Regions from separate parts of the Homo sapiens genome. Here region 2 is linked to region 1. Evidence: fine-mapped expression QTL. A gene starts in region 1. The other region holds a variant in brackets. All regions are shown on one strand. Distances are between the middles of the regions.

The links. PIP is the estimated chance that this variant, and not a neighbour inherited with it, causes the effect.
Region 2: its variant is the best candidate, but not a certain one, in a credible set for the expression of PCID2 in blood mononuclear cells (TOPMed, PIP 0.51).

The regions. Positions count from the first base shown.
Region 1 is chr13:113,207,115-113,209,948 of GRCh38, reverse strand. PCID2 (PCI domain containing 2) reads left to right here and starts at 1,280. Exons shown (of 14, transcript NM_001127202.4): 1 at 1,280-1,350. The coding sequence starts at 1,315. CUL4A (cullin 4A) reads right to left here and starts at 336. Exons shown (of 20, transcript NM_001008895.4): 1 at 174-336. The coding sequence starts at 321. RefSeq lists silencers at 1-80, 141-470, 571-840, 1,101-1,390 and enhancers at 925-1,574, 1,575-2,225.
Region 2 is chr13:113,159,056-113,161,955 of GRCh38, reverse strand. It overlaps PROZ (protein Z, vitamin K dependent plasma glycoprotein), which reads right to left. Exons shown (of 8, transcript NM_003891.3): 2 at 1,779-1,942; 3 at 984-1,008. Among named protein-coding and RNA genes, the nearest start is that of PROZ, 1.9 kb to the right of the region's middle. RefSeq lists an enhancer at 2,094-2,671. The variant C/GC (reference allele first, on the strand shown) is at 1,682.

The sequences.
Region 1 (2,834 bases):
GGCTCAGGGCGCGCCGCGAAGCGCCCCGCGTAGCCACCCCCGACCCGGCCGGCGCCCCGGCGCCCCCGCTCCCGGGGCCCGCACGGATCTCGGGGCCTTCCCCCCAAGTCGGGCGGGGTCTCGTGGGGTCCCCGCCCGGGGCGCCTGGCCCTCGACCCGGCCGCCGCACCCACCTCGGAAGTTCTTGATGACCAGCTTCTTGGAGCCGCCCGCGCCCCCCGGCTTGGCGGGCGCGGCGGCCAGGGCCGCGGGCTTGGTGAGGCCGTTGGTGCGGCCCACGAGCGCCGAGAAGCTGCCCTTCCGCGGGGCCTCGTCCGCCATGGCTGGGCCGGAACCGCCGCGCCCCGCCCCGAGCGCCGCCGCCCGCCGAGCTCCGCTCCGCCCGCCCCGGTCCGCGCGGCCTCCGCCCCGTCCTCCTCGCGCGCCCCGCCCCGCCCCGCCCGCGTGCCCGAGCCCAACCGCCGCCGCGCCCGGCTACTCCTGAGGGCTTAGGAACGCGCGCCGGGAATCCCTCCTGAGGGATCGGACTCCCCCTAAGAGATTCGGACACCCCCTCCTGGCTCGAGGGCGCGCGCCGGGACTCCCGTCCTGAGGGATCGGGACCCTCACCCCCGGCTCCGGGGGGCGCACCGAGACCCTGCCCCCAGGGCTCCGGGCACCCCCTCCTGGCTCGGGGATGCGTGCCGCGGGCACCCCTCCTGAGGGGATCGGGAGCCGGGACACCCTCCTGAGGGCCCCGGGGCGCGCGCCTCCTGAGGGCTCGGCACCCCCACCCCGGGCGTGAGACCACCTCGAGGGCTCAGGGGTGCGCGCCGGGACGTGCCCTAACTCCTGCAGGCTCGGGAGCGCGCGGCGGAGGCACCTTATGAGAGCTCGGGAGCGCGCGCCATGTCCCTCCCCCTCCCCCTCCTCGGGCGCGCGCGCCCCGAGGCCCTGGCCCAGCCAGGCGCGGAGGGTCCTCCGCGGCCTGGTTTTCACAAGGGGCAGACGAAGGGTCAGCGCAGTGAAAGGCAGTTTAGCCGTGGGGCTGTCCTCGCCACTGGACCCCAAACCCCTCAGCCCGGGCGGGCCCGAACACACAATCAGAGCCGCTGGCGTCCCGGCTGAGAGGACGGGGCCCCGGCAGAAAGACCCCGGGCCCCCTCAGCCCGAGCGCGTCGCCGAGCCGGTCCCCAGGTTCTCCCTCCGGAACCAACCTGCGCACCCGCGGCGGGGCCGGGGGCGCCAGGACCCAGACGGACCGAGGGCCGGAAGTGACGCCAGCTGGCCCGCTTGAGGCGTAGGGGGTGGCGCTCTCCGTTCGGCGGCGCTCCCATGGCGCACATTACCATTAACCAGTACCTGCAGCAGGTGGGTCCTAGCCGGGGAGCGCGCGGCGGCGTGGTTGGCCCTCGGCGTGTTCCGTGTGTCCCCTCCTGCCTTGGACCCTCAGGCCTTTTCCTTTCCCGCCTCGCCACCCTTCTTCCGTTCGGGTCCCCGGCGGGCAGCCGCGCGAGCCGAACAGCGGCGGCCGGGACTCGGGAAGGCGGCCCGAGTTCTCCCCTGCAGGGCCGCCGTGGGGGCCGGGCGGTGTCCGTGGATCGCGGAGTCGTCGCGGTGTAAGTAGACGCGGCGGTCCCAGGTCGCTGCCCTCACTTGCTGGCACGTGTGGCCGCGCTCCCAGGCGGTCCGAAGGGCCTGCGGGCCACGCCGAGGGCCCGCTGTGGGCGGTGCTGTGTCGGATGGACGCTGTTTCCCAGCAGGATGCGGGATGAATTCGGGGACTCCAGGAGGCGATGGAGGAGTAAGCGCGAGGCTGTGGCCGTGCTGCAGGCCGGGCTCGTGCCCCTCGTCCTCGCTGTCGTTTAACGCCCTTCACTCTCCGAGCACAATGCACACTTCATATCGCTCGGTACATGCGTCTGACAGATGTTGTTCAACAGCTTGTAAGTAGCAGAAGCACAGTTAAAAGATGGACACTTGTAAAGATTCAACGCATATTCTTTCCACTAAACTATGCCTGTCTTCAGAACCAGCACTGTGGTAACAGGGATAGGAAATATAGGGAATGGATTTTTAAAATATTTGAAGGAAACATTACCAAGACGTGGTGAATAAGAATGGGTGGGCTGAGGGACACGGAGGAGTTAAGAATGATTCCCAGGCTTGTAATCTGGGAAAAAGATGAATAGAGTGGATTTGGAGGGAGAAATAAAGTTTTGGGCATGTTGAGTTTGAGGTGTCTGTTGACAACTGGGTAAAGATACGTACTTGATAGCTGAAAAGTCTGACATGATTGGGCCCAGCAGTTGCTTGGTTAATTGAGAAAACTGGTTAAAACAGGAATCACGAAGAAATGGATGTATGTTTTTAACTTAAAACATGAAAGTATACATTCACTTGCCAATTTTTTTTTTACACCACTTACCTCAAGTTCTATACTTGCCAATCTTTTGATGTAAGCCCAGGGCCTTTTCTTTAGGCTGTGTCTGTTTTGGCCTAATCTTAGCAGACTTAACATTTTCCAATATCAGTTTATTTAAAGTTAAACAAGGATATAGGCATTTAAGAACCAATTTGATACGATTATCTTTAGAATTTTCTTAATCTTTTACAATTTTTCCCCCATACCTAATTATTTTTTTAACAAACTCAAGTGAGCCTTTTAAAAACATACAACTTAGCTTATAGAGAAACAACTGTTTCCTTTTGCATTCATATTTCATTGATGAGCTTAAAAGTACATAACTACCATAACAGGTTCGGGTAGCAAAAATAGATTTGAGAACAAACACATCTGGATATGAGAACACATACAACTTAGCTGGCAAAAGCTTGCGATGTATTAGAGTGAA
Region 2 (2,900 bases), 48 kb after region 1:
CGGGGACCTGAGCAGGAGGAGGATGGGGGGAGGTGGCAGGGACGGGGACCTGAGCAGGAGGAGGATGTGGGGACGTGGCAGGGACGGGGACCTGAGCAGGAGGAGGATGGGGGGACGTGGCAGGGACGGGGACCTGAGCAGGAGGAGGATGTGAGGAGGTGGCAGGGACGGGGACCTGAGCAGGAGGAGGACGGGGGGGCAGGGGGTGGCAGGAATGGGGACTGAGCCTGCTCATGCTGCTCCCCATGCCATCGCCTGGCCCCCAGGACGCTCCCCGCTCCGGATGTAAGGCCTGGCTGCCAGTGCCTCCCACTCTGCTGGGTGCCCTTTCTTCGTCCGCACGCGGTCCCCTCTGTCCCGCCCCATCAGCCCTTCTCCGGCCTTCCCTGCCTCTCCCGCTTCCTTCTGTGCCCAGTTGTCCCCGTGCTTGTCTGGTGGTGGCTGCAGCTCTTTGCTTACTCATTCCCAGGTGGGTCCTTACCCTGGCCTCCCCCAGCCCCGTGGGTCTCCATCTGTGTTACTTCTGTCCCATGCTCTTCTGCAGTTGCCCACCTAGAGCTCCTCCCTTGGGAGGAGTCTCCTAACCAAAGTCTCCATCGGGGCCATGACTTTCCAAAATTTGAGACGAGTTCTGACCCTGCTGCAGCATGAGGCTTCCCAGGAGCCCAGGAGCCAGGCGGCTGGAGGAGCTGCTCTGGGGGGGCCCTCCTGGCCTGTGGCCCATGTCCCAGAGTGCCAAGAAACTACCCAGACACTGGGCAAGACAAACCAGGCACTGCCTGTGGCCCTGGTGGCAGAGCCCGGGGGCTTCCTGACCTGGTCCTTGGGGAGAGTCGGAGCTGCCCTTCCCTGGAGAGACACCGTGGGTCCTGGAGCCAGAGGCTTGGCATCCGCTGAGCTGGGGTCGTGAAGCGTCCTAAGCCCACCCACGCACCTCATCCCGAGGAATTAATACTTCTGAGGAGACGAAGGAAACCACTTACCCTTATATCGTCTCCAGAATTCATCCTTTAGAGTTAAAACATAAAAATGTTACAAATGGGATATTTGTTTTTCTATATTCTTTCCTGTAGATGAACTTGAAGGTAAGAAAATGTTGATTTTATTCACTTAATAGGACAATAGTGGTTGAAACAATGCACAATTTTCCTGTTTTACAGCCTATTTGTTTATGTTAAATGTATAGTAACTAAATGTATCTGTAAGATATATTACTCAACATGTGCTTACCACCACCTATTTGAGGAAGGCCAGAGTCTATGACATGGCACAAACCCACCACCCACAGCCCCTAACGTGGCCCTTCCCTTCTAGGGCCAATCTCCACGCCACCCTCCACAAAAGCACATGATATAGAAGTCACATCACCTTTTCGCTTTTTATAAACCGAGTTGAATTTTAAAGATATATACCTCTGTAGGGAGTGGGGACACTTAGTTTGGGGTAGGAGTATCTAAAATTAGGAGAATTATTCAGACTTGAAGCCTAGAAAGAAAATGTATGCTGGGTGTCTGATCAGTGTGTGGGCCTTGCCTGACCTGAAGAAATGAGTCCAGTGGGCTCTGAGCTGACTTCCAGCCCCACTCACTGCTGTAGGGAAAGGTGGATTAAGTCGATTCTCTAAATTGTTTCCTCATCTGTAAAACTGGGATTGTGTCAACCTCATCGGTAAGTAAATAGG[C/GC]TAATTAATTAAGCTTAATCTCTGAGAAATGATGCTCCCTGGGCCAGCAGAAGTCTAAATAATGAGGAGGCCTGTGGTTTGTGGTGGGGGTACATACAGTGACTACTTCATTTTCAAACACTTCTCTTGCTTCTTCATAGACACAGATTTCTTCATAACATTCTTTTTCCAAGTTTCCCTCGAAGAGTTCTTCCAGAAGATAGGAGCCCGCACGCTTCCACCTCACCAGAACGTCGTTTGCTTTGGAGGCCGGGAGAAATACTACAGACGAGACAAGAAGGCAGGTGACTGGGAGCACCGAGGGCCCTGCTTTCCAGAGCTGCCTGGCTTCCTCCCCGGCCGGCCGCCAGCCCCAGCCCCGTCCGTCTCCACAGGCTCTCAGCCTGCGAGGGCCTCAGGGCCACCCCGCTACTCCCTCCCCCGAGGTAGGCAAGCACTTCATCCTCTGGGCGAATGGATCAGCCCCAGGATCAGTGCGGATACACTAAGGTTCTGCAGAGAGGCCACGGGCCTCAGTCAGGAAAGTGGAGGAGGGAGGGCTCCAACTGGGTTTTGGGTCTGAGTGCGAAGGAAGGCTGAGCTGGGGTCAAAGGTCCCCGTACTGAGAACTGGGGACCAAGAGCCATCAGCTCCTGTGCTGCCTCTGTGCGCAGCATTTAACATCTTGATAAAACACATAAAGAAGAAACTTATACATTGCAGCAGGCTCTGCGATTTCCAGGAGGAGAAGGCAAATGAGTTGACCCGCGGCAGTGGTCTCTGGAGCCTCTTCCCACCTGAGGGTCCCAAAGCATGTTCTCTCCCTCTCCGGGAGGGTCAAAGCCCAGGCCCTTCCCATCCTCCCTCCTTTTCTCTCGGTGCTGAGGGTTACAGCAGGGGGGGCTCAGCTAAGTCCGGCTACGGTAAGTGCTGGGCAGGGCAGGGCGGGGGGATCACCCTCTCAGGGTGGGAGACCATGGGGCCAGCGGGAGACCATGGGGCCAGCGGGGATGCTGGGTGTTTTGACTTGCAGCTTTCCTGGACGCCTGTGCAGGCAGAGTCAGAATGGAGTCCATGTCGTTCCTTCAGTGAAGTGGCTGGTGGTAGAAGGGTGGCAGGCAGGCAGGGTGGCTGCTCCCTGGCTATGTCTCCTGACTCAAGACTGGGCATTCCTGGCTGGCCTGGCCAAGGCTCTCTCTGCCCACATTGCAGTCTGGGCTCAGCCTGCCCCACCCCCTCC